Linked DNA regions of Homo sapiens. The main gene of each other region encodes a partner of the protein of the gene in region 2 in a complex. Each region holds a gene or a part of one and is shown on either strand. Other genes may lie near its edges. The genes, in order: TEAD4 and FAM181B. A codon is read from its position in the direction of its gene.

What was found.
Region 1: the proteins of FAM181B (region 2) and TEAD4 are in contact, whole or in part, in a crystal structure (PDB 6SEO), measured with the Homo sapiens proteins. Residues at the interface, in NP_787081.2 of Homo sapiens: Pro221 (codon at 4,042), Leu222 (codon at 4,039), Arg223 (codon at 4,036), Arg225 (codon at 4,030), Asn226 (codon at 4,027), Leu227 (codon at 4,024), Pro228 (codon at 4,021), Ser230 (codon at 4,015), Phe231 (codon at 4,012), Phe232 (codon at 4,009), Thr233 (codon at 4,006), Glu234 (codon at 4,003), Pro235 (codon at 4,000); in NP_003204.2 of Homo sapiens: Glu263, Ala264, Val265, Asp266, Gln269, Ile270, Asp272, Lys273, Leu295, Lys297, Trp299, Glu391, Val414, Glu416, Val417, Ser418, Ala419, Ser420, Gly423, Gln425, His426, His427, Tyr429.

The regions. Positions count from the first base shown.
Region 1 is NC_000012.12:2,953,504-2,964,207, reverse strand, and holds the start of TEAD4 (transcriptional enhancer factor TEF-3), read right to left. Parts: upstream 4,812-10,704; 5' UTR 4,727-4,811; intron 4,468-4,726; exon of another isoform or gene 4,261-4,467; 5' UTR 4,168-4,260; exon of another isoform or gene 4,160-4,167; intron 1-4,159. UniProt on the Homo sapiens protein: Transcription factor which plays a key role in the Hippo signaling pathway, a pathway involved in organ size control and tumor suppression by restricting proliferation and promoting apoptosis.
Region 2 is NC_000011.10:82,729,028-82,740,007, forward strand, and holds FAM181B (protein FAM181B), read right to left. Parts: upstream 4,838-10,980; 5' UTR 4,703-4,837; coding exon 3,422-4,702; 3' UTR 913-3,421; downstream 1-912.

The DNA.
Region 1 (10,704 bases), on a different chromosome or scaffold from region 2:
GGCAAACACGAGCCCTGTGCTAGTAAGAGCCGAAAGCTCAGCACAGAACCGGCACGGAGCTCTAGCTTCACACTGAGTCAACGGCCCCCTTTGGAGGAGGGCCCCACCCCAGAGGCCCACCCTATGTGTCATCAGCCCCTCCCCAGCGCCCTCTGCACTGCCCCCAACCCTCTACCGGATATGCAATCCCATCCCCCAGGAGGGTCACCCCTGGCTCTGCACAGTTCCCATTTCCTGCCCCTGGTGACTCCTCTGAAGTCTATTGTTCCCATGAAGTTTGGGTCAAAGGAAGCAGAGTCCCCACCCATGGGGGCCCGCCTGCCCACACCAAGCCAAGGAGCCAGCCCCCGCTACAGGGAGCCTGGCCCATCCTCTGGCCCTTCCAGGAGCCCCCCTGTATTAAATGCAGGAGGACGTGGGCATAGATCTTGGAGACCTGAGTTCTAGTGGAAATTTTCCCAAATATCCAGTCCCCACCAGCTAAGGGCCCCAGGGCCAGATCACACAGGTGTGATTAGAATCTCCCAGATAGTAGCGGGAAAAACCAAAAGCAAGGGAAGAACCGTCATCTCAGAAAGCGTCCAGGCAAAAGTGGAATTAGAAGATAGGAGCTGGAGACCGTGTTCTCCCCAGTGACAAAGCCCTGCCCCCACCTCCACCTGGGCCCTCCTGGCTGCTGACAGCCCCCTCACCCCCCTTTACTGGACAGCAGCTGTTCAGCTCCAATTTCAGAGCTTTAAAGGGAGCTGTCGTCCAACCCCGGCCAACAAAGGGTCATGGGGGCAAAGGAAGACAGGCAAGGTAAAGCCACCCTCACAAGCCCTGAATTTCCAACTGCCACTGGACTGACCTCAACTGCAGGAAAGGCAAGGTCCAAAGCTGGGGACCAACGTCCTCCACTTCCACTGGGAAGGAGAAGGAGGAGCCACAGGTTTGGCAACAGGCATTGCTTTGTGACAGTCACCGGGGCAAGACTCCAGAGTGGAAATCAAAGGAGGTTGTGACATTTGCAACCCAGGAGATCTAAAAAGATAGGGAGAACCTTCACCTGCCGGCTCATCAAGGGGAGAGGAGGGTGTGTTTTAAAGACCCGAGGGCCCCTTCCCGACTCCACAGATTCTACAGTGAGATGGCTCCTTCCCCAGAACAGCTATGTGCTTTCTGCCAGGTCGGAGCAGAGTATTTCTGCCTCCTACCAACCTTATCTGAGCGACAAGGCATGGCCCAAGTCAGTCTGCTCCAGCTTCCGCGCCTGTTGGATGAAGGCGGCTAGGGGGAGTAGGGGGTGTACAAGCACTGCAATCCACAGGGCAGGAGACAGAACGCCAAGGGGAGAGCATAGGTTCTAATCCCTGCTCTGCCACTCACCAGGGTTGCGGCATTAAGCAAGTTACTGTCCCTCTAGGAGCATCAGTTTCCCCATCTTTAAAATGGGAGACTTAGGCCAGGCGCAGTGGCTCACGCCTGTAATCCCAGCACTTTGGGAGGCCGAGGCGGATCACCTGAGGTCAGGAGTTCAAGACCAGCATGGCAAACATGGCGAAATCCCGCCTCTACTAAAAATACAAAAAACGGCTGGGAGTGGTGGCTCATGCCTATAATCTCAGCACTTTAGGAGGCCAAGGTGGGCAGATCACCTGAGGTTGGGAGTTGGAGACCAGCCTGACCAACATGGAGAAACTCCGTCTCCACTAAAAATACAAAATTAGTGGGGCACGGTGGCGCACGCCTATAATTCTAGCTACTTGGGAGGCTGAGGCAGGAGAATCGCTTGAACCCGGGAGGCAGAGGTTGTGGTGAGCCGAGATCGCACCATCGCACTCCAGCCTAGGCAACAAGAGCGAAACTCCATCTCAAAAAATATATATATATATTTATATTTATATATATATTTATATATTTATATTTATATATATAAATAAATATATATAAATATATATATATGAAACTAGCCGGCCGGGAGGCTGAGGCAGGAGAATCGCTTGAACCCAGGAGGCGGAGGTTGCAGTGAGCCAAGATCATGCCACTGTACTACTGCCTAGGCGACAGAGCGAGACTCCGTCTCAAAAATAAATAAAATAAAATAAAATAAAAATAAAGTAAAATAAAATAAAATGGGGGACTTAGATGCTGACATTAGGGTATCTAATAATGTTCAGCAAGCTCACCCTGGGGCCAAGGCAAAACTGGAATCAGAAAATAGAAGCTGGCACTCTGTTCTCTGGTGACAAAGCCCTGTCTGTCCCCCTCCCTCCTGACCTGGGCCACTAGGACCCTGGATTCCTAAGGACGCGGAACACAGCGTAGGGCCTGGCTCACAGTAAATGCTCGATTCATGTTTGCTAAATAAACATGATAGACAGGGCAAGGTTTCTCAAATGGTGCTCAGAGAAACACTAATTCAAAAAACACTAATCCCTAGGAAAAAGGGGTTCTTACTGAAATAAGCGAAGGAAACACTGGATACAACAGCTATCCTATGGAGTCCATGGGATGTGCCAGGCACTGTGCTGCTGGGTGGGGGCTCTGCAGACATCGACTTTTCACAAGAAACTTTCTGGACAGAAAAGCTCCGCTCGTATTACCCACCAGGAAACAGCCTGAGAGCCTTAAAGGTAGTGAGAGACTCAGGATTTGTACCCTGGTCTGCCTGACCCCAAACCTGTGCCCTTTCCACTCCATCAGTGCTGCTTTTAGACCAGTCGCACACCAGGCCGAAGAGGTGAGAGGGTGAGGTGTTTCCCACAAGAACATCCACATCCTCAGGATGGATGGAGGAGCAAGGACGAGAACCCCCAACCCCCGAGACAGTTTCTGGCTCCTTCCTTCCAAGAAGCCCTACACATGATATCCACGTTGAAGCCCTCATGCAACAAGCTACTCATTCCTCTTCTCAAAGGAAGTGCTGAGTGTCTGGCAAGTTGGAAAGAATGAGGGATTCTTCTACTGGGTTACCTGGTCAGCTCCGAGGAGAGTTAAACCAGGAAAAGTAGTTCAGGCTGGTATACCTCCCTGTTTGTCCTTGAGGGCAACTTAAAAGCACTATTTACACAAGTCTCCAGATTCAAAACTGTCTCCTTTTCCCGGGGATCCACCCCGACAAACCTTCCCAAATCTCACCCGCCCATCCCATCCCCCAAAGGCAAAGATCTCAACTTCCTTCAGCCTCCTACCAGCTTTTTGACCTATTCCAGGCAAGCACAAGACCCTCGCCCTGAGAAAGTCAGCCTCCTGGCTCCAAGAGGCAGGTGGAGCCAGCTTCCTTCCAGCTCTGCCCGGTCCAGGGGAAACGGAGCCTGGAGGCCACACACTCCAAAACCACAGTCAAATTATCCCTGCACTCAGGCAACCAGAGACACTGACTCTTGCCCACGGCTATGTAGGGAGGAAGAACAGTCCTAGCCAGAACCAACATCCTCGAAGAGAAACACATACTCAAGAGACGTGGCATCACACACCTACTCAGAGATACTCACTTTCAGACAGCCCCTTCTCACGCAGACATATACACACACTCTGTCACTCACGTTCAACACAAACAAATACGCCCACTGGAAGCCAAGGTGAGCCACACGTGAACAGACATCACCCACACAGAGACTCAAAGCGAGGGGGACTCGCAGTCAGGTGTCACACAGACTCAGCACAGACGCAGTCAGTCCGCGGGGCCTCAAGTGCCTCAGCACAACGGGGGAAATGTTCACTTTGGGGTTTGAAAGTTCTGCTCCCTGGATCGATCCACTAGTCCCCATCAGGAAACACAGCAGCTTCCCAAGCCCTGAGGTGTAGGACCTTTTGCAGGGGTCCCCCGACTTTCGCATCGCCTTTGCACTTAAAACAGGCAGTCCGCTTACCTCCAGGTCTCTCCCTTCCAGGCTCGAAAAGGGCCCAGCAGAAAAGAGGCATGGGTGCTGGGTCTCTTCTGTTGCCGATGCTCTCGGTTCTGCCTCTCCGGTCCTTTCCACACCGGCCTCCCTTTCCCCCAAAGTCCCGAGTGTCCACCCCCCTTACCCGCCCCTGGAGCCGCTTCGCCTCCAGCAGCCTCAGTCGCGCCGCCTCCACGTGCCTCGCTCTTCCCAGTCTCGTCCCGGGAGGGAGCTCCGCACGCACCGCGCAGACTCCTGCCCTCCGGCAAAGTCCTACCAAGTCCCCGCGCCCCAGCCTTACCGGTCCCAGGGTGCGGGAAGGTGGGATGGGTGCGCTAAGCCAGTTCCAAGGAGTCCGCCCCGAGCGCCAACTCTTCCGGCCGCGGCGATCGTTCTGCGGGGACGACAGGGCGTCAGCGCGCAGAGCCGGGCTCCGGCCGGGGCCGACGGGCGGCGCAGTGAAGGCGGGGCCGCGGGGCCAAGCCCACCCCGCGCCGACCGGCCCCGGTGCGCCCAGCGGAGCGGAGCGGAGCGCGCGGAGGGAGGAGTTTTCCCAGAATGGGACTGACGGGAAAACACGGGGATCCCTATTCCTGGAGGAGTGAGTCAACCGGGAGCGAGGAGGGGAGCGCGGGGCGGACAGGAGGGAAGCGGGAGAGGGGCAGCGAGCAGCGCCGGAGCGCGGAGGGAAGCCAGAGGTCGGGACGGAGCGCGTCGGAGCGCAGAGGTCCAAGGCGGGAACGCGGGCGGCGGAAAGAAAAGAGCAGCCGAGCACGCGGCGCGAGCGGTCGGCTGCGGCGGCGTGGGGCGCGCGGCCCGTGAGGGCGCCGGCGGGTGCGGCGGGCGCGGGCGCCTCTCACCTGGCGGGACGCGGCGGCGCCGGAGCTGCGGCCCTCCCGCCCCCTGGCCTCGAGTGTGCGAGGAGGACGCTGGAATGCGCGGAATGAGGGCTGGAATGAGATGCGCGCCGCGGCGGGAGGGAGGGAGCCGGAGGGAGTGGCGGCGGGGCCACCGGCACCTCGGGGAGGAGACTGCGCCGCGCGCGGGCGGGCGAGGGGCCGGGCCGCCGGGGCGGGGCGGGGCCGGGCCGGGCCGGGGCGGGCGGCGGGGGAGGGGGCCGAGGGACGGCGGGGACCCCTCCACCCGGGCCTCGGCTGCGGCCCCCACGCCCACTAGCCCTTCGATCTCTCCGCTCCGACTGTTTGGCTGCTCGTTGCGCGCCCCGCGCCCTCCCCTCCTGGCGGGGTCCCGACTCCCTTTCCCAGGAGCCGAGAGCCTTCCTCTTCGCCGGGGTGGGGCTGTCCCGGGGGCGGGGGGGTGGACGGGGCCCAGACTCCCGCCCCGCCACCCGGCGTCCCTCCGCACGAGTCCCTGGGAGGCCGGGGAAGGGGCGGGCTCCCGGCGCGCAGGAAGGGCTGCTCCCTTCCTGCGGCTCCCACCAAAGGACACTTGCTCCGGGGAACCAGGAAGCAGGAACTCGCGGGCTCCATTCCCAGATCCGCTGCCAGTGCCCCCTCGCTTGCCCTCCCCGGCTTTAGCTCTTTCCGTTTTTCTCTCCTGCCCCTTGGGCATCTGTAAAACCGCCACTACGAGTAAACCACATGGGAGAAAGGGCACTCGGTTTGAAGTCCATGTGGCATGCCATGGGACGCCTTCTGGGCTCAGTGACTCAATGAATATTCATCTAAGATGTGTGATGAGTCCAGATACTGTGAAGATCAGGATCAGCCGTCAGCACCTGCCCTCAAAGAGCTCAGAGTTTAGCTGGGGAGGCCTCGGTGTATACTGCCATCGGTGAGAGTCTGGACTTCAGACACACATGCCCAGGAGTCTCTTATTGGGGCAGGAGGTGCTGGAAACACGCTGGGCTCCTTGTTTGGAGACGCTTAGGACAAACGGGCTTAAAGCAGTGTGCTGGCAGGTAGCGCCATCATCTACCTGGCCAGGAGACTGAAACCAAAGGACTTTTGGCTTTTTCCAAAAATCAAATCCAACCTTTTCTGGGGCATTATCACTTAGCCTTGTGTTGGGTGGTTGTCTAGATCTTATCTCCCTTGCCAAACAGAAACTTCCTTGAAGACAGAGTAATGTCTGATTTATCTTATCTTTCACACAGATCCAGCCTGGTGCCTGGGATAGGGAAGTGCATGATAAATGCTGCATAAATGAAAAACAATTGCTACCGTGGAAGATATTGAAAGGAAAGTGCTATCGATGCCAAAGTTGTTTCCAAGAGAGGTATTCCAAAAGTGTTTCAAGCAATGACTGAGCTAAGCATCCAGTCCTGCAAGGTGAAGGCGTTGAAGACGCAGCCCTCATTTGAATAGATGAATTGTGGTATTCTTGTTAAATAATGAATCATATCAAGGCTTGGTCACACCTCATGCACATGAAAAGACCAAAACGCAAGGCAGCATATCAGCGCCACGTGAAGTACACACTAAGCACCAACTATTTAATTCAGCAATCATGGGGGGCCCGGTGGCTCACGCCTGTCATCTTAGCAATTTGGGAGGCCGAGGCAGGTGGATCGCTTGAGCCCAGGAGTTCGAGATCAGCCTGGGCATCATGGTGGCCTGCACCTGTAGTCCCAGCTACTCAGGAGGCTGAGGTGGGAGGATAGTTTGACCCCAGAAAGTTGAGGCTGCAGTGAGCCGTGAATGCACCACTACACACCAGCCTGGATGACAGAGCGAAACCCTGTCTCAAAGTAATTAATAATAATTATATTAATTCAGCAATCATTGGAGTGTTTGTTGACTTTGACACCGCACTAAGGGAAGGAGTAGGTCCCTTTCCTCAAGTAGTTCCAGTCTAGGTGAGAAGACAGACAATTATGCAAAGTTCAATGGGAACCCAAGGGAAGGAACAGTGAAATCCAATTACAGTGCATTTGATCTAGCTCTTGAGGATAAATGAGGGTTTGCCAAACTGAGACTGGAAACCCCATTTAAGACACATGGAATAGCACCTACAAAGGTGAGGCAGCCAGTCTGCTGGTGTGTTTAGCGAAGCTATGTAAACTGGTGTGGCTGGAGAATAGAGATGTGGATAATAAGATTGAAGGAAGTGGATACCAGACTTTGAAGGTCATTGCGTGCCATGCTGAAGAGTTAGGCATCAAAAAAGACACAAGTGTGACTTAATCAGCAGCACCATCAAGAAGACCGTCTTGCAACAGTCTTGCAGTTGAACTGGAGACTCGGGGTGCCCTAAAACTCAAGCAGTGGTCCTGAGGTTGAGGAGGAGGGGAAGGAGCTAGGAAACGGTTCAGATCATTTGGCTGTGTAGTGAGAGAGAAAACAAAAATCGCTAACCTTTAACAGCTGAACAATGGTTGGTGTCAGTAAGTGAGATAAGAATTCAGGGCTGGGCACAGTGGCTCATACCTGTAATCCCAGCACTTTGGGAGGCTGAGGTGGGTGGATCACGAGGTCAGGAGTTCCAGACCAGCCTGACCAACATGGAGAAACCCCATCTCTACTAAAAATACAATATTAGCTGGGCGTGGTGGTGCATGCCTGTAATCCCAGCTACTCGGGAGGCTGAGGCAGGAGAATCACTTGAACCCAGGAGGTGGAGGTTGCAGTGAGCTGAGATCACGACATTGCACTGCAGCCTGGGCAAAAAGAATGAAACTCCGTCTCAAAAAAAAAAAAAAGAAAGAAAGAAATTCAAGCAAAAGGGGAGTGGGGTGAGGTCGGAGGGGAATCCAGCCAGGTTCAGGGGACGGAGAGGAAAGCAGGACAGAGTCCAGAGTAGAAACAGGAAAGCAACCCTAGTGTCACGGTTAGGGTAGACTGCTGACAACGAACTTGGAGATCTTTATTCCCTCTAAGTCTTAACTATCCAAGACCATCAGTGATCCAAGCTGGGAAGGTGTGTCTTCAGGATCTTGACTTTCTGGCCCATACCCTTATAGTCTCCTGGAGAGCTCTGGAGCTTTGGGGACCTCAGGCTTGGAGCTGTTGAGGAATGTCTAGGTAAAGGAAAGTTAACAGATGTACAAATTCTGAAGAGTTAAAGGCAAGGTGATTTTACCCACACATCAGCCCTTCCCAGGGATGTTTACATTTCTTAAGGGACAGGACCCTAATTCACTGACCCTCAGGAATGAGTCTTTTGGTGGAAATATTTCAGCTGTCTGGATCCTACAAATGGATCCTCACTCAAGCTTGATGATGGACTGTGCAGGAGGAGGAGAGTAAGGGTGTGGGCAGGGCTGGGTGGTTTCATGTAGGGGTATTTGTGTTGGCTATATTCCAAAGTCAAAGTTAAAAATCAATTAATTGGGCACAGTGGCTCACATCAGTAATCCCAGTACTTTGGGAGGCCGAGGTTGGAGGATCTCTTCAGCCCAGGAGTTTGAGACCAGCCTGAGCAATATAATGAGACCTTACCTCTACCAAATAAATAAATAAATAAAAATTAGCTGGGCATAGTAGCACACACCTCTGGTCCCAGCTACTTGGGAGGCTGAAGTGGGAGGCTTGTTTGAGCTCGGGAGGTCAAGGCTGCAGTGAGTCGTGACCTCGCCACTGCATTCCAGCCTGGGCGACAGAGCAAGACGTTGTCTCAGAAAAAATAAATAAAATAATATAAAATAAACCAGACACATTCATGATATAAGTGGAAAAGCAGATTCTAAAAATTATATATAGGGGCTGGGCATGGTGGCTCACACCTGTAATTCCAGCACTTTGGGAGGCTGAGACAGGCGGATCACCTGAGGTCAGGAGTTCGAGACCAGCCTTGCCAACATGGTGAAACCCCATCTCTACTAAAAATACAAAAAATTAGCCAGGCGCGATGGCACGCGCCTTTAGTCCCAGCAACTTGGGAGGCTGAGGCAGGAGAATCACTTGAACACAGGAGGTGGAGGTGGCAGTGAGCCTAAATCGCACCGTTGCACTCCAGCCTGGGCAGCAAGAGTGAAACTCCATTTCAAAAAATAAATAAATAGCTGGGCGTGGTGGCTGACACCTGTAATCCCAGCACTTTGGGAGGCTGAGGCGGGCGGATCACCTGAGGTTGAGAGTTCGAGACCAGCCTGACCAACGTGGAGAAACCCCGTCTCTACTAAAAATAGAAAATTAGCCGGGCGTGGTGGCGCATGCCTGTAATCCCAGCTACTCAGGAGGCTGAGACAGGAGAATTGCTTGAACGCTGGAGGCAGAGGTTGCGGTGAGCAGAGATTGCGCCATTGCACTCTAGCCTGGGCAGCAAGAGCGAAACTCCGTCTCCAAAAAATAAAATAAAATAAATAAATAAATAAAAACTATATATCAGATGACCCTGTTTTTGAAAAAAGTTGAAAAAGTATTTTAAAGGGATTATTTCTGAAAGTTTGCAAATTAAGGGGATCTAGTTTCTTGTTTTTATTCTTTTTTTTTTTTTTTTTAAGACAGAATTTTGCTTTCGTCGCCCAGGCTGGAGTGCAATGGCACAATCTTGGCTCACTGCAACGTGCGCCTCCCAGGTTCAAGCAATTCTCCTGCCTCAGCCTCCCCAGTAGCTGGGATTACAGGCATGCACCACTGCACCCAGCCCTATTCTTTCTTTTCTTTTCTTTTTTTTTTGAGACGGAGTCTCGCTCTGCTGCCCCGGCTGGAGTGCAGTGACGCCATCTCGGCTCACTGCAAGCTCTGCCTACTGGGTTCACGCCATTCTCCTGCCTCAGCCTCCTGAGTAGCTGGGACTACAGGCGCCCGCCACAACGCCGGGCTGATTTTTTGTATTTTTTAGTAGAGACGGGGTTTCATCTTGTTAGCCAGGATGGTCTCAATCTCCTGACCTCGTGATCCACCCGCCTCGGCCTCCCAAAGTGCTGGGATTACAGGCGTGAGCCACAGCGCCCGGCCTCCTATTCTTTATTTTCTGTAACAAACTTGTAGTTTATAATCAGGGACAAATGTGACTAGAACTATATATCTAACCCTTCCCTAATTTCTCCACATCTTTAAAAAACAAAACCCTTTACACATATGAAAATATCACATTGTGGTGCTTGCCTGGGCAGCACATATACTAAAATTGGATACTGATACAGAGAAGATTAGCATGGCCCCGAGCTCACAAATTCGTGAAGTCTTCCATTAAAAAAAAAAAAAAAAAAAAAAGGCCAGGCGCGGTGGCTCACGCCTGTAATCCCAGTACTTTGGGAGGCCAAGGCGGGCGGATCACGAGGTCAGGAGATCGAGACTATCCTGGCTAACACGGTGAAACCCCGTCTCTACTAAAAATACAAAAAATTAGCCGGGCGTGGTGGCAGGCGCCTGTGGTCCCAGCTACTCGGGAGGCTGAGACAGGAGAATGGTGTGAACCCGGGAGGCGGAGCTTGCAGTGAGCCGAGATGGCACCACTGCAGTCCGGCCTGGGCAACAGAGTGAGACTCCATCTCAAAAAAAAAAAAAAAAGGCTGGGCGTGGTGGCACACGCCTGTAATCCTAGCACTTTGGGAGGCTGAGGCAGGCGGATGACGAGGTAAGAGATCAAGACCATCCTGGCCAACATGGTGAAACCCCGTCTCTACTAAAAATACAAAAATTAGCTGGGCGTGGTGGCACGCACCTGTATTCCCAGGTACTTGGAAGGCTGAGGCAGGAGAATCGCTTGAACCTGGGAGGCGGAGGTTGCAGTGAGCCGAGATCACACCACTGCACTACAGCCCTGGCGACAGAGCAAGGCTCCGTCTCAAAAAAAAAAAATGTGGCCAGGCACGGTGGCTCAAGTCTGTAATCCTAGCACTTTGGGAGGCCAAGGTGGGCAGATCATCTGAGGTCAGGAGTTCGAGACTAGCGTGGCCAACCATGGAACCCAGGAGGCAGAGTGAGCCGAG
Region 2 (10,980 bases):
GTACTACAGTAAGCGGCATGGTCAGACACATTATGTGCCCAGACTGGAAGGCAAGGTGGGGAGGAATAGGGCTACATAGGGACCTGAGTAACAGGATGGATTGGAACCTTGACATAATGCCAAGCCTTGGTTGTCTGCTACTAAGTACTGCCCCCTTCCTCTTAGAGGATATTTATATATACCCTATGCCAAATCACAATAACGCTTTGTGATCGATCGTTATCCAATTTTTCCAATGCATAAACCATGCTTCAATTTGGTTAAGTTACTCGTTCACTGCAGGTAAATCAGCAGAGATGAGATGCACCTAAGTTGATTTAGCCCCTCCCCTTGGCCTTTCTTATTTGTCACCTATAACAATGAAGATAATAACACCGAAGCACAGGCCTCTGTAGGGAACAAAGGAAATAATGTATATGAAAGCACCAAACACCCCACAGACACTTTCTATATACATTTCTCTAGCATAGTGGTTCTCAACTGGCAGTAATTTTTCCTCCCAGGGAGACATGAGGTAATGGGGATATTTTTCTATTGTCACAACTAAGGCAGTGCTACTGGCTTCGAATGGGTAGAGGCCAGGGGTGCTGCTAAACACTCTACAATGCACAGGATAGCTCCCACAGCAAAGAATTATGACACCCAAAATGTCAATAGTGCTGAAGTTGAAAAAACCTGCTAGTACCATAATACAGGGAACTGGAAACCACACACATGTACAAAGCACAGGAGAGCCTGGCAAGTAACAGGCAGGTCTTGGTATTAGGACACTTGTATATTTGGATCTTGGATCCACCACTTGCTGTTGACAAGCTATTTATCTTACCTGAGCCTCAGTTTTCAAATAGGGATAATGACAGTACTGTATTAGTCTGTTCTCACACTGCTATAAAGATACTACCTGAGACTGGGTAATTTATAAATGAAAGAGGTTTAATTGACTCACAGTTCCACATGGCTGGGAGGCCTCATGAAACTTACAATCATGGCAGAAGGTGAAGCAGCAGGAAGGCACGTCTTACATGGTGGCAGGAGAGAGAGATAGCAAGGAAGTGCCACACTTTATAACCATCAGATCTCATGAGAACTCCCTCACTATCACAAGAACAGCATGGAGGAAACCACCCCCATGATCCAATCACCTTCCACTAGGACCTCCCTCGACATGTGGGGATTACAATTAGAGATGACATTTGGCTAGGGACACAGATCCAAACAGTATCAAGCACCTACATCATGGCAATATTAAGAGGCTCAGTGAGTTAGCTTAAATGCCTGGGATGCGGAAACAATGTTGATATTATTATTAATTAAACGTATAGCAAGCAAAACAGTAGGAGAGAGATAACCTGTTTTACTACACTAGGTAAGAAAGGAGAGGAGAATTAAGAAACATTACAATGACACTATAGTCTTAGTAACAGTCACAGGGTTATTAATGTTTTCCTACTGTGCAAGTGTATCCTGGATTGTATTCACAACAGTTTAGACAAATTAAATCGTTATTAAGTAATATTCTGTTAGCACAATGGAATTAATCACCTTTAACCACTTTGGAAGAAATCCAATAGACATTAGCTTTCTGGAGTTGCAAAAGTTCTTTTCATCATTAACAGTACTCGTTCTATTTCCTGTGGTGCTTTCTTAAGAAAGGCTTTATTCAGAAGAAAATGACTTACTGATAGCATTTAAAGTTGCATCTACCATTGGTTAATACTCATTTTTTCCAGAAATTCTTTTATGAAAATATCACAATACTTTTGATGTGTGCAAACATGAACCTGGATTTTTACACCTCTTGCGGTAACACTCGGTTTTCAACTAACTCACATCCAGATATTCCTGCAATCAATCCTGGGTGCCTTGAAGCCAAGCAGCTCTCCTTTGCAGCATCATCAGAAGGCAGCCTCTCACTCAGATGTTCTGGGCGTTGCTCTCTTCATGCCTTTCTCCCCGCAGTTCTACAGCACCAAGGGCTCCTCTTTTCCCTCCAGCTGCTCACTTCCCACCAGTCTTTCCTCCCCTGCCCCTTAACCAACCTATTGGTGCCATGTGTCCTCTCTGCCACATTCATGGCTGGTAAAAATATTTCTTTTTCCCCAAATCTCCCTCGGACAACAGATCATACTCCTCCCTGCAGAGCCCCTTCAGATTCCATTCATCAGACCTGCTATTCAGGGAACAGAAATTCCTTTGGAAACTTCACACCTTTCTTTATGCCCTTCCGTGGGGAGAGTGTGGGTATAAGGACTGAGGAAACAAAGGGAGGCAGAAACCAACAGAGGTGGAAGGGGAGCTGTGGAAGGAGAGAAGGAGGGATGGTAAAGAGGATGTACAGCTTGTAAGGGAAAGGGCAATCACCAGGCAAGTAGATAGCCCCCCGCCAAAAAAGGCATGGGACTCACAACTCTGTTTCCGTGTGTAGAAACCATTTATATATACACAGCAGAACCAATCAAGCACTGCCACAGCCTCAAGACATTTTACTTATTTCCCTCTGAGCTACCCAACCAGTTGTGAAGTGAGTAGAAGAACATTACCGTCTTCACCCTCTCAGATCACGAAAATTGATACAAAGAGGTTACAGTTTGCCCACCCTCTCCCTCCCAAAGTGGCTGGAAAATGGGGAAAAGACAGGAGAGAAATGGAACCCAGGTTTGCCAAATTTAAGTCTCCTACAAAAGAGATGTGCAAGAAAAGCCGGCCGAAAGAAATAGAATAATGAGAGGCCAGGCAAAGAAAGAAGGAAAGTAAGCACTGGGACTGTGATAAGGGTGGAGGGAGATGGAAGCAGGAAGCGGGCAGAAAAAAGAGTTAAACCGTGACAGAAGAGAACCCTACCCAAGGACAAGCACAGGAGGTCAGCAGTGGACCACCGGCCTCCTCCCTCAGCCACAGGCTCACCTAACAAAGCTAAGCGACCAGACGGAAAACCGTCCTGTAAGAAAACACCCAAATCAGTAAGTCTCACCTCCATTCTTTTCAATATAGGCTTTAATTCAAAATGCACTCAAGGAGAGGGAAGGGAGGGACTAGGACACTGTTTAGAAGGGGTAATTACACTAAATACACTGACCTTCGCTGAAAAATAGAAGGGACAGGTGGCTACAGAAGCCAGCTCTTACCCCTTTTGCCGTCCCCACCCCATACCCCAAACCATCTTGGTTTCTTGACTCCTCTGGTCCAGTAAGAACCTACAAACGTGTTTGTTTGTTTTTGTTTTAACACTTGAGGTTGTGATTAAACAATCCCCAACTCGTCTTCATCTCTTTTTTCTGAAGTTGCTTTTATTAATTGAATTTTTAAAAATCTGGTTTCATCTCCACGTGCATTTTCCCATCGTTCTTCAGATTTAGGAGAAACCCACGGAGGCGCGGCGCTCTCCACAGCCGTCTCTAATGAAGGGAAGCGTGCCTCGAAGTCAGTCCCGGTGCGCCCCCTCCTCCCCCGGCGCCCCTTCCCAAACCCCGTCGGATCTCCAAAGGCTGGAATAGGCGGTGCGGCTGTAGCCCGCGCTGTAATCGTAGGACACCTGATGGGGCGGCGGCGGCGGGGGCAGGGCGCAGTCTGGAAAGAAGGGGGCGAAAGAGGCCAAATGGCCCCGCCCGTCCTCCCCGCCGGGAGAATCCGCAGCGGCGGGGTACAGGGGGCTCAAGGGCTCGTTCAAGGTCAAGCCGCCGCGGGGGGCAGTCAGGGGGCTCTTTTTGGTCGGGGAGCAGCCCGGGACGCTCCAGGGCTCGGGGTACAGTAGGTTTCCCACCACTGCCGGCGGCGGCTCAAAGAGGCCGGGCTCCAGCTCCGGGGGTCCCCGCAGTACGGAGGCTCCGGCGGGGAACACGTCGAGAGGCTCGGCGGCAAGCAAGACTGCCGCCTCCGTGCCGGCGCCGTAGTCGGGCCCCAGCAGCTCAAAGAACTCCACGGCCTCCGCGCCCTTCTCCAGGTCGCCCAAGCTCACGTCCGGCCCCGACGGGCCACACCCGCCGCCGCCTGCCCGGGACGGCTCCGTGAAGAAGGACGGAGGCAGATTGCGTGCCCGCAGCGGGACCTTCCTGGCCCCTGGGATCGCCGTGGCCCCCGCGGGGCCTGCCACGTCCCCTCCCGCGCCCCCAGTGCCCGCACCTCCTAGCCCGGCCGCCGGCGCAGCCACCTCACCCCCCGCCGGCTCGGCACCCCCGGGGACGTGGCGCAGCGAGTCGAAGAGCGCGGCCAGACTTCGGCTTTGCAAGCTGGCGGCCGCGGCGGCCTGCGACGCCTCCCGCCGGGGGGCAGCCTTGCCGTGGGCCGGGGCCGCGACTGTCGGGGCGCTAGGGGCGGCCAGCGGCCGTTTGGCTGGCGTGTCGGCGGCGCTCGGGGAGGGCGGGCCGGGGGGCGCGGCGCCCATGAGGCCGCTGCAGCGCTTGATCTGCTTCTGCAGGTACTTGCGGTGGTTCACCTTCCGCTTCGACTTGCCCGGCTTGTCCAGCGCCAGCTTGATGTTGCTGGACGCCGAGTCAATGAAGCTGAGTAGATCGCGGGTGGCCTCGCGCACGTCCCCTCCTTCGGCTCCCGACAGCAGCGCACCCGCCGGAGCCCCGGTCTCATCGTCCTCGAAACAGCAGCCCTTGTCCAGGGCTCCGAAGGCGCCCCCTAGCCCGTCCGGGGAGCCCCCGAAGCCGAAGGGCACGAAAGGGTGCGTGCTGAGGAGCGCCGCCTGCACCGCCATCGCCGCGGCTCCCGGGCTGTCCGCAGCGCTGCCCGTGCGCCCCCGCCAGCTCCTGCCCGCCGCCCAGACCCAGCTCCCGCCCCGGCGCGGCGCGCGCGGCGCAGCCTACTAGTTCCGGGCCTGGCTCGCTGCGCTGCCTCCCGGGGGAGCTCATTAGGTCTTGTAAGCAAGGGGCGGAGGGAGGGAGCGCGCGGCGACCGTCCCGGTGGTAGAGGGGAGGGGCTTACTTAGCCTGGCTTGGAGGAGTGGGGGGTCGCTTTAGTTTTCTGAGCTTTCTGAAGCTCAACGCCTTAACTCCTTCGTTTCCCTTTGCCCCGTGGTGTTTCTCTTGACTCCTCTAACCGCAAGGGGTGAGGAAGAGATGGCTGGTCTCAAACTCCAGTTCAGGCCCATGAGGCCGCTGCAGCGCTTGATAGGCTTCTGCAGGTACTTGCGGTGGTGCCTCTCCTGAGGCAAGAAGGCAGGAGTCTAGAGACGTGGGTTTCAGTCCAGCTGTATAACAACACCCACCAGCTTCTGGGCGCTTGCTTCTGCCAGGCGCTGTCCATCTATTATCTCATTTAATCCTTGAACAACAGCCCTGTGAATTACATGTTATCGCCATTCAACAAACGTGGACACTGCACCTCAGGGAGGTTCAGTGAGTTGGCCAAAGTCAGATCTAGCCCATTCTGACTCCAAAGCCATTCCTAAGCCCTTGACAATACTTGCGTCCTCTCTTGCCCTTGCCTTTCTCATCTATTAAGATGGGGAAGGAAAATGAGTATTTCTTAAAGCTCTAGACCTGATCCTAAGATTCTAACCTGAGTTTTCCCAGGATTCTCAAGCCCAGTGCTCTTTCTTCTTGACTGTTTGCCACTTGATTGTTACGAGTAACAATTGGCTAACAGTAAATTGAGGCCAGCAGTGGCCCATCTTTTATTAACACATAGCAGGAGGCAATGGAGAAAGGAGTCGATCTGGCTAAGCCCCCTGTTACTTGAGAACACTGTGTGTGTATAAAACTCTCAGCATGTTAGAATAAAAGATGGATTGGAACCTCTCCCCTACCTGTCATACCATTTAGGTTATCCCTGGAATTTTCATTGCATTTCAGGGATCATCATGAAGTTCACTTAAAACTAATTTCACCTGGGCAATCCTCTTTGGGATAGATAGAGAAAATGAGCAATAAGGTCATTTTCACAAGAGATTCAGAAGAGGCTTGGGTTCTGGTCTTAGCCACCACTCAATAACCTCATGACTTAGGTTGAAATCCTTGCTCTGCTGAGTGCATGGCTTTAGACAAACCAGCGTACTCTCTCTGTTTAGCTTACTCATGTTAAATGCAGGTAAAGTTGCCCTCCCCACAGGGCACTTGTGATATTTAAATGATACATTGTTCCATAGCCTGGATGAGTATTCACCCTTACTTCTCTGAAACACAAAAAGGTGACTATATCCCTTACGTGTCTTCTGGATCATAGGGTGTTCATGAGCATTAAGTGAGATCATAGATGCTTCTCAATTTGTGATAGAGCAACAACATCCTGATAAACACATTGTAAGTTGAAAATATTGTAGGTTAAAATGCATGTAATACACTGATTCAAGTTGGAAAATCATAAAGTTGAACCATCATAAGTTGGGGACTGTCTCTATATGAAAACACTGTGTGTGTGATAAAGTGTTCTCTAAATAAGTTACTCTAGTTTCGATACAGAGCTTGCATAGGAGAGACATAGACCATCTCTTTCAAAACTCTTTTTATTAAGCCTCACTTTGTAGATGTAGCGAAACCATTTTTGAACACCATGAAGGCACAGCCTTACCAAAGAAAAAAGGCCAGATGGGCCATCAGAGAAATACAAATCAAAACCGCAATGAGATACCATCTCACACCAGTTAGAATGACGATCATTAAAAAGTCAGGAAACAACAGGTGCTGGAGAGCATGTGGAGAAATAGGAACACTTTTATACTGTTGGTGGGACTGTAAACTAGTTCAACCATTGTGGAAGACAGTGTGGCGATTCCTCAAGGATCTAGAACTAGAAATACCATTTGAACCAGCCATCCCATTACTGGGTATATACCCAAAGTATTATAAATCTTGCTGCTATAAAGACACGTGCACACGTATGTTTATTGTGGCACATAGCAAAGACTATTATTCACATAGCAAAGACTTGGGACCAACCCAAATGTCTATCAGTGATACACTGGATTAAGAAAATGTGGCACATATACACCATAGAATACTATGCAGCCATAAAAAAGGATGACTTCATGTCTTTTGTAGGGACATGGATGAAGCTGGAAACCATCATTCTGAGCAAACTATCGCAAGGACAGAAAACCAAACACTGCACAGGTGGGAAATGAACAATGAGAACACTTGGACACAGGGTGGGGAACATCACACACCGGGGCCTGTCGTGGGGTGGGGGGATGGGGGAGGGATAGCGTCAGGAGATATACCTAATGTAAATGACAAGTTAATGGGTGCAGCACACCAACATGGCACATGTATACATACGTAACAAACCTGCACATTGTGCACATGTACCCTAGAACTTAAAGTATAATAAAAAAGAAAGAAAGAAAAAAGGCCAGATGAACATTTTTCATTTAGAAGATGAAGTAGCCACTTCCCAAACCCACATAGCTGAGCCAAACTTTTTATTTTAAATTCAAATTGGCTCAATTATCATGGACTTTTCATTTGAGTTACACACAGCATTTTGTCCTCCATGGCCGAACTGTCTGTTTTACTCTTGGTGGTATTCACATTCAGAAAATTGTGCAGACCTGTCACTGATTTGTGCTTCTTCCACTCCAGATGTGGATGTCAGCACTGCCCATCCCCTTTCCAACAGGGCCATTCCATAGGCTTCCAGGTCTGGCAGCCAAAAGCACTAACTTTTTTTTTTTTTCACCTTCTGTCAACTGAGCACTCTTACAAGTCCTTGGACACCAATTGCACAGTACTCTACATTTAATCGACATCTTATTCCGAAAAAACTCTTAATCCCCAGGGTTATCTAAATCCTAAAATCATATTCAAAATAAATGGAATATGAAAAGCTTCATATGTAAAAGTCTTTCTTCATTTCTATTGGAGTTCTGCACATCAAAGTTGATTTGAAGTTAGATGAGGCCAGGTTCAAATTCTGGCCCTGCCTATTGCTATTGAACTGCTTGGACAAGTCAGTTCATATTCCAAAGGCTCAAACTCCTTATCTGAAAAAAGGGAATGGTCATAATTGTTCTCAGGGTGAGAATTACATGACATAACAGGCAAGTAATGCCTCTGAATCTTACTTTTCTCACCTGCACAGTGGAGATAATCTCAACTCCTCAAGGTTGTTGTGAGATGGTATATATAAAAGCACCTCACACAAAATAGCAGTTCAACAAATGTCCATGTTCTTGATTCCTTAGGCCCCACCCATTCCTTACCAACACATTACCCTATGAAACCAGCATCATTTGTCCTTTCCCTCAGCAAAGTGAGTGACTATTTTCAAATGCAAGAGAGTAGCTATACTTGGGGGTTGTAGAAACTTACAAAAAGACAATGAAATACAGGAGAGAGAGTGCTAAAACTGGAGCCGGAGACTGACACTGGAGTCCAGTCCTGCCTTTATTATCTGACTGCCTATGGAAAAGTCACTTAACCTTCAGGACCTCGATGTTCCCATCCATAAATGGGGAATAATAACATAATCCTATTTGATAGGGCTATTGTGAAAATCAATAAGATAATGGAAATTGAAGTTTTTGTAAACCATGGAGCTGAAATTCATGGCTTAGAAGTTCTATAGCCTGATTCACAAAATTGATCCTTACAAATAAATATCCATCCAGTCACTGATTTTTTCCAACAGAAAGATATTGACACCCACAATGTGCTCAGCGCTATGCTAGTACTGGGGATACAGAGATAAGAAGCCATGATTTCTACCCTTTGGGTGGAAAGACAAATATGCAAACAAGCCATTGTAATATAATGTGATACATGTCCAATGGAAGTAAAAGGACCCTCAAGTCTGCCCACAGGAGTTGGAGAAGGCTGCATAGACATGCAGCATTTGAGCTAAGACTTAAATGATATATCTGACTGTGTAAAGCAAACACACAATATCTGTGGCAGAGAGAACAGCCTGGGCAGAGGCATGGCTAAATGAAAGCAGTGGTGTTTATGGGAAAATGTAGGCAATAGGGCAACAAAGAACAGCTTCTGCTTGAAGTAATTCTATACCTGAGACCAAAATAAATCCTTAGAGCTTCCACTGTCCAACTAAATTGTACATATAGACCCAGCCTCAAGGCCTTGGCTGCTTTTTCCCTTGATCTCCTTTCCTTTGAGGAAGAGCTCTATCTGGAATGAAATTGGTTTCAGTAAAGTTAGTAGCCAGCTCTAGCCAAGCCCATCAGTCCCTCCTCCTACTCCCTGAGTGAGCACATTCATTTGAGTGGCTTTGACATCAATACATTTCACTTCCTATGGAGCAGAGGGACCCGGCTCCAGCCTGCAGTAGGGGCTCTCTGCAGAACTCCAAACTAGAGCTCTTTCACCCCAGTGACGCTTAATGCTGTGCAAGTGGGATTAGTCTCCTTGGGAACCAAGTCCCCCAGGGGCTCAAGGGCTGAACTCGCCCCAAACCGTTTGGGAGAATTGAGATTTCATATTGTTCTTTTACACTTGGATTTCAGGACATTACTTAGACAAAAGCCCACCTGAGAGCTGCCTCCTTTCTTGTGGGTAAATATAGCAGCAGGATCAAAAGCTGACTTATTTATTTTGTTTTCGTCTTTTGTAACTTTAATCATATTCCCTGCAGGACAATCTTAGCCCTCAGAGATGTCAGGAATGTACATTCATAATGAAAGAAATAATTATGCATCTGTTTTTCTCTCCCTTCCCAAACCAATTTCCTGTCATTCATTATTTTTTAAATCTCGAATAAAGCAAATTAATTCCTGAATTTTACCACATGACTTATAAAGTATCATTATCATCATCACAATAGAGTGTTACCTTACAAATTGTGCACCCTCACAAATGTCTCTTGTTTTCTTTCTTATCGTTTTCCCCTGCAAACCAGATTCTACTAACACTAGATTTTAATTTATGTCTTAAAATATTAGATGTTATTCTGGTTATCTATAGTTATATAACAAATTACTCCAAAACTTAGTGGCTTAAATCAACAACCATTTTATTACATCTCACAATAATATGGGTAAGAAATTTGAGGAAGAGCTGGCTAGGTGATCCTCCTGGTTCATGTGACGTTGACAATGGCTGGCCTGGAGGATTCAACATGGCATCATTCACATGACTGCACCTGCACCTACACATACTGGCCTCTCCAGTATGTTGGTCTAAGAGTACTCAGACTTCTTATGTGGAGCTTCAGGAATACTGGAGGCAGCGCTGCAAGAGGCCCATGTGGCACCTGCCAGGCTTCTTATGACCTAGCCCAAGAATTCCCAGAATGTCACTTTCACAACTTCCTATCGGTCAGGCAAGTCATTAAGGCCAGCTCAGATTCAAAGGAAGGGAAATTAGAATTTACCCCTTAATGGAAGAAAAGACAAAGAATTTGTTTGGTATGTCTCTTAAATCTCTTTTAATATATAACCACATACACTTACTGTTTTGTTTTCTTTGTGATTTGTTTGTTGAAGAAACTGCATCTTTATCTTGTCAACTTTCCCACATTCTGTACTTGGTTGGTTGCATCTGTCTCTACGATGCCACCTAACATGTTTCTATGGTCCATGTGTTTCCTGTAAATGAGAAATAGTTGTAGAGGCTTGATCAGATTCATATTCTTTTTTATGCTGTTTTATATATGTGCTACAATATGTGCAATAGTTTTGGAATAACAATGCCAATATTCTTACAAACAACACAACTACTACAAACAGTTTAATTCCTTTTTCTTTGTCATTCACATTTTTTGTCTTCAAAACCTATCCCAATAGGGATGAACAGTCCAGTTACTATGTTTCAAATTCACTTTAAAAACCTGTCTCTGGTTGGCCAGGCATGGTGGCTCACGCCTGTAATCCCAGCACTTTGGGAGGCCGAGGGGGGTAGATCATGAGGTCAGGAGTTCGAGACCTGCCTGGCCAACATAGTGAAACCCTGTCTCTACTAAAAATACAAAAAATTAGCTGGGAGTGGCGGCGCACGCCTATAGTCCCAGCTACTTGGGAGGCTGAGGCAGGAGAATCGCTTGAACTCGGGAGGCAGAGGCTGCAGTGAGCCGAGATCGTGCCACTGC